Linked DNA regions of Homo sapiens: region 1 is linked to region 2. Evidence: fine-mapped QTL for protein levels in blood plasma. Region 2 holds a variant in brackets. A gene starts in the other region. All regions are shown on their forward strands.

The links. PIP is the chance, under the fine-mapping model, that this variant and not a neighbour inherited with it causes the effect. Protein levels are from antibody-based Olink assays in UK Biobank. Linkage for the fine-mapping came from a reference panel and not from the study's own genotypes, which makes the PIPs less certain.
Region 1: it holds the start of DPEP1, and the variant in region 2 is fine-mapped to the plasma level of the DPEP1 protein (UK Biobank, PIP 0.91).

What each region holds. Positions count from the first base shown.
Region 1 is chr16:89,611,881-89,614,785 of GRCh38, forward strand. DPEP1 (dipeptidase 1) reads left to right here and starts at 1,762. Exons shown (of 11, transcript NM_001389466.1): 1 at 1,762-1,839. RefSeq lists a silencer at 1,362-1,520.
Region 2 is chr9:101,485,370-101,488,274 of GRCh38, forward strand. PGAP4 (post-GPI attachment to proteins GalNAc transferase 4) reads right to left here and starts at 1,804. Exons shown (of 2, transcript NM_032342.3): 1 at 1,580-1,804. The variant T/C (reference allele first, on the strand shown) is at 1,419.

The DNA of each region.
Region 1 (2,905 bases), not on the chromosome of region 2:
CTAAAATGGAGTCTGTCCGGCGCTCTCTCTGCTACGAGAAGGTCACTTAGGTTAAAACAAGGTTGGGTATCACACTGGGAGGCCGAGGCGGGCGGATCACGAGGTCAGGAGATCGAGACCATCCTGGCTAACACGGTGAAACCCCGTCTCTACTAAAAAAGAAATACAAAAAATTAGCCGGGCGTGGTGGCGGGCGCCTGTAGTCCCAGCTACTCGGGAGGCTGAGGCAGGAGAATGGCGTGAAGCCAGGAGGTGGAGGTTGCAGCGAGCTGAGATCGCGCCACTGCACTCCAGCCTGGGCGACAGAGCAAGACTCTGTCTCAAAAAAAAAAAAAAAAAAGTCATTGCCCCAAATAGAAACCCATTCCCATTAGCACCCACTCCCCACTTTCCTTCACAGCCTCAACAACCATGAATCCACCTTCTGTGTCTATGGAGTCACTTATTCTGGACATTTCATATAAGTGGAATCACACGACATGTGGTCTTTTGAGTCTAGCTTCTTTCTTTCTTTTCTGAGACAGGCTCCCACTCTGCGGCCCAGGCTGAAGTGCAATGGCGTGATCGCAGCTCACTGTAACCTCAGTCTCCCAGGCTCAGGCGCTCCTCCTGCCTCAGCCTCACAGCAGAGACCACAGGTGCGCACCACCACACCCGACTATCTGGCTTCTGCCACTTAGCGAAATGTTTCTGAGGTTCTTCATGTTATAGCACGTGTCAGCACGTCACTCTTCTTCATGGCTGAGTAATACTCCACTGCGTGAAGAGACACATTTATCTGTCCCCGTGTTGGGCATCTGCACTCTTCCCACATTTTGGCTATACTAAATTGTCCTGCTACGAACACCTGTGTAGTTTCTGTGTAAAGGTACAGTACCTATATGTTGGGGTGATCAGACCCAACCCCAGGTCGTGGGGGTGACAAAGTCCGGCGGAGTCAAAGGATTCAGAAAAACACAGAGAGAGAAAGGTGGCACACCAGGGGGCCATCGCTATTGTGGAGGCTGCAAAAGCCCGAGCTCTGGGAGCCCACGGTATTTATTGGTAATGCAACAAAGAAACAGATGGTGAGAATATGGAGGTCAAAAGACCACGTTGCATTAAGCACATGATTACAGCTGTGCCGGTTTAGCATTTATATGGAGCATGTTCTGCTACTTGAGATAATGGGAATAGGGGCCTAGGAGGGCTAGAAGGAAGGAGCCAGCAAGTCTAGACACATTCCAAAGGACATCATGCAAGCCCTGCCTCAGTTTCCCTCCCAACACCTATATGTCTTGTTGGTATACATGTTGTATTTTCACAACGAAAATGCATGAGAAAAAGGACACAGATGGCTTATGTGTACTGATGTGTAGCATTCTCTAAGATCTGACATCACAGAGCTGGACAGCACAGCTGTGCACGCACCCCCCTGGCTGGGAGGTGGCACATCCACACATGAGGGAAAAACACTGCCAGGACATCTCAGGGCACTCTCAGGAAATGAGGAAGCTGCTGGAGAAGTTTCTAGCCTTGGGGGAGGTCAGGACGCAGAGCCATCTCCTGGAGCAAAGTTCCCTCCTCCTCTCTCCCTCCTCCTCTCTCCCTCCTGCAGCCCTTCCTTCCGACCCCTGGCCCTTTCTCTCCAACCTTCCCCTCCCCTCCTCCATTTCCCTCCTCTTTCTACTTTCAGAGAACACAGGGTTCCTGCAGGAAATGGGGCAGTTTCACCTTCCTGAGGAGGGGCCTGGGAGGGGCAGCAGGTGGCCGGGTAGGGCCAGCCCAGCTGTGAGCCTGGCGTGGGAGCTGCCTAGGCCGGGCCCTGCCAGGGAGCAAGTCTGCATCGCAGAGGCCAGGGTGAGTGGGCTGGGGAGTCGGTGCGCCAGGGTACTGGGGTGCCCACCTGGGGTGGTGCAGGCCCGGGGACCCCAGGGCACCACTGTGGGTGGAAGCTGGGACCAGGCGTGCGGGGCAGGGGACGCGGCGGCTTCCTGGGATTCTAGGAGGCTGAGGCCAGGTGTGTGCGGCAGGGGACGGGGCGGCTTCCTGGGATTCTAGGAGGCTGGGACCAGGTGTGTGGGGCAGGGGACGAGGCAGCTTCCTGGGATTCTAGGAGGCTGGCACCAGGTGTGTGGGGCAGGGGACGCGGCTGCTTCCTGGGATTCTAGGAAACTGGGGCCAGGTGTGTGGGGCAGGGGACGCGGCTGCTTCCTGGGATTCTAGGAAACTGGGGCCAGGTGTGTGGGGCAGGGGACGCGGCGGCTTCCTGGGACTCAAGGAGGTGGGAGAGCTGCTCTCAGACCCGCCGCTGTCCTCCCACTGGCCCTCCCCGTGGTCCCTAGGATGAGGTCTGGACCCGCCAGGCCCTCCAGAGGCCCCACAACCCCGCTTGTCCACTGTGCCGGCTGTTCCTTCCTTGTGGCGCCCAGTGCGGTCCTAGGCACCCTTGGGACTCAGCTCACGTACCCCTTCCTCCAGGAAGAGTTCTCAGAGGCTGTGTGAGGAGCGCCGAGTCCCCGGACTTACTCTCTGTTCTGGAATTCTCTGCGCAGTCATCTGCCTTCCCGCCCAGCTAAGAGCAGGGCCTGTTGTCCGGCCCCACAATTTCCTTCCAGGTGGAAAGGATTTGCTGAATGAAAATCAAAGCTGTGGCCGGGCGCGGTGGCTCACGCCTGTAATCCCCACACTGTGGGAGGCCGAGGTGGGCAGATCATGAGGTCAGGAGATCGAGACCATCCTGGCTAACACGGTGAAACCCCGTCTCTAATAAAAAATACAAAAAATTAGCCGGGCGTGGTGGCGGGCGCCTGTAGTCCCAGCTACTCGGGAGGCTGAAGCAGGAGAATGGCGTGAACCCGGGAGGCGGAGGTTGCGGTGAGCTGAGATCGTGCCACTGCACTCCAGCCTGAGTGACAGAGCGAGA
Region 2 (2,905 bases):
AACCATCAAAATAAAAAATTGACCAAAGTATCCAAAAGATCATTTGGAATTAGAACTAGTAAAAATTAACAGAAAATACTCGCTATAGTGCAACACGTGACAAAGAATTACTACTTCAATGTGTAATACACATAAAGTGTTTAAAAGTCAGGAGGAGAAAGATACTCCAACTGAAAAATGGGCAGAAGAATTAACAATCAACTCACCTACAGAAATGCAAAAGGCTACTACACAGAGGAAAAAGTGTTAATTCCCATGGGTAATCAAAGACATGCAAATTAAGACAAGATACCATTTTTTGGTCCACGCTTTTGATTTAAAACTTCAAATGTGTATACATAGAGAAAATTTTAAGATATGCAGAAAATCTAAACCATCTAGAAGTTGAAGTTTTAAGTTATTTTTATTTTGCTTCTCCTTTGGATTTTTGTTTACTGGATGTTTTCTAATATGTGTATCCTTACAACATTCTAATAATTCTAATAATGTTGATTTTCTCTTCTCACCTCATAAAGTACCTAGTGCAGTGCATTCTAGAAATTCACCCCTAAAAAAAAAAGCTATTTCCCCTATAGAAGGAGAAACACACACATGCACGCGCACACACACCCGCATGTGTTGCTAATGGTCCGCATGGTGAGATCATCATTGGAGCCGCCCTGCGGTCCCCCGGAGAGAGCCTGGGCCGAGCAGAGGATGCGGGTCACAACGACCCTGCAGGAGCTCACGCCCCAAGACACCGCGAGCGCAGTGCGACACTAGCGACGCCGGAGCCAAGGGCCAGAAAGAGGGCGAGACACACCCAGGTGGATCTAATTAACCCTCCCTCTTGGAAAAAGAATGGGGGACGATGTCCAGGGCCCTGGATCTAGTGTCTGTCGCTGACCTTGGGCAGTCCCTGCCACGCTTGAGCCTCAGTTTCCCACCCGTAGGCCGAGCTGACCGTCTCCATCGCTGCGCTCCTTCCCTTCTGCTGGTTTTTCCTGGTCCTGGGAGGGACGCCTTCCTCTGCCCAGTCGCCCTCCCCCAGCCCTTGGCTGCGAGGTCGCCCGCAGAAACCCAACACTGCTGCCGCGCTCTCGGCGCGCCCGGCGAACCTAAGGTGTGGACGCGCCGCGAGGGTCCCCTGCTTGCGGGCGGCCATTAGGCGCCAGGCCCCTTGGCGCTTCGGCCCTGCTAGGCTCGGCGAGGGTCTTACCCAGACTGGCACGCGCCCCGCTCGCGTCCTTCTATTGACCTGTCAGCGCAGCTGGCGCAGGCAAGGGCCAGGGAGGCGCCCCCGAGACACTCAACCATCCCCGCACTGATGCGGGCCCCTGCTGCCCTGGGGACCCCTGCGGGGTCCTCGCAATCCTCCGGCAGGAAGCGGTCGGAGCTGCGGGCAGGGCCGCTAGGCAACCCGCCTGCCCGAGGCGCAC[T/C]GCCCGGGGCACAGGCCCTCTGCGATGACTCTCCCCAACCCCCAGCTGCCCTGCTTGTGCCAGCTGTGGCCACCCCTAATCCTTGTCCCCTCGCTCTAGTGTCCAGGGCTCCGACCACCGCGCCAGAAGGGCTGGGCAGATCGTGCGCAACAGAAACCTACCCGGTTGGGGCGACCAGCTCGGTCCCCTGCGCGCGCCGAGGGCCGCCTCTGGTATTGCCCAGGCTGGCTAGCTCATCCCGGTGGAGGCGCCATCTCCGGGGCCCGGAAGGAGCGGGCGCAGCGCGGTTTGGGTGTGCGCCGGAGCCTCACCTCCTCCCGCCTCGCAGCTCAGGCGCAGGGCTCCCCTTGCTCAGGCGGGCCATGTGACCCGCGAGCTGCGGAGAGACCGCGGCCCCCAAAGCGGCTTGGGGAAAAAGGACGGCAAAAGGCGCCAACTGATGGGCAGCCAGGGAAAAGCAGGAGTCGCCCCCAAGTCACGCAAACAGGAAGCCTGTTTCTTTTGTGAGGGGACTAGAAGCCAGCATTATATTTCATCAGGTGTGTACATAGAGACTTATTCACACCAATGGAACGATATCTCTCAATGCGTGTAAACGCTTCATGAGAAAGCTGTTACTTTGGGTCTTGAATGTTTTTCAGTCTTCCCCAAACCCTCAATTTAAACACAAACGGCCACGAGAGACATAACGCCTGAGGTATGAGAAAGTATGCACATTGATTGAGAACAATCCCGGCAAAGCAAATAGGAAAAAGATACGGAATGATCCGAGGGAGGAAAAATGTGGGGGTCAAAAGAAAAGTAACAGCCTCCTACATTCCACCTTGGACTTTCCCTTCTGAATGGGTTTTCAGCACACAATTGTACGGCCTTACTCAGTGCTTCTAATCCTAGGTTTGCCTGTCTAGGCCACAGGTTAGCAACTACAGTTTGCTGCCTGTTCTTGTACAGCCCACAAGCTAAGAATGTTTTTTGCAATATTTCATGGTTAAAAATGGAAGAATATTTCAGGGCTACGAAAATTATATGAATTCAAAATTTGATGATCGTAAACAAAGTTTTACTGCAACATAGTCATCATTTACATATTGTCTATGGCTGCTACCATGAAAGAACAGCAGAGTTGGATAGTTGTGACAGAGACCTTATGACCCACAAAACCTAAAATATTTACTGCCTGATTTGCCAACACCTGCTCTAAAAGGTCTGTTCAGTGGTCACAAGATAAAGCATTAAAGCCAGTAAATGCTCATATGATTTCTTCTTGTGTAAGTAAAATTGATACTAGATATTAACTTCCTTTAGAACCTTACAAACACCCACCTGAGCCCCCATTCATCATCTACTCTTTCAGCCAGCATTTACTGAAGAATGGTTCTGACATACTGCCATCACTATAGATGACAATGAAGTAAGAATGAGGTGTGGATCCTTCACTCAAGGAATTTGTCATTAGGAATGCTGGAAAACCTATATCTGAGGCTGGA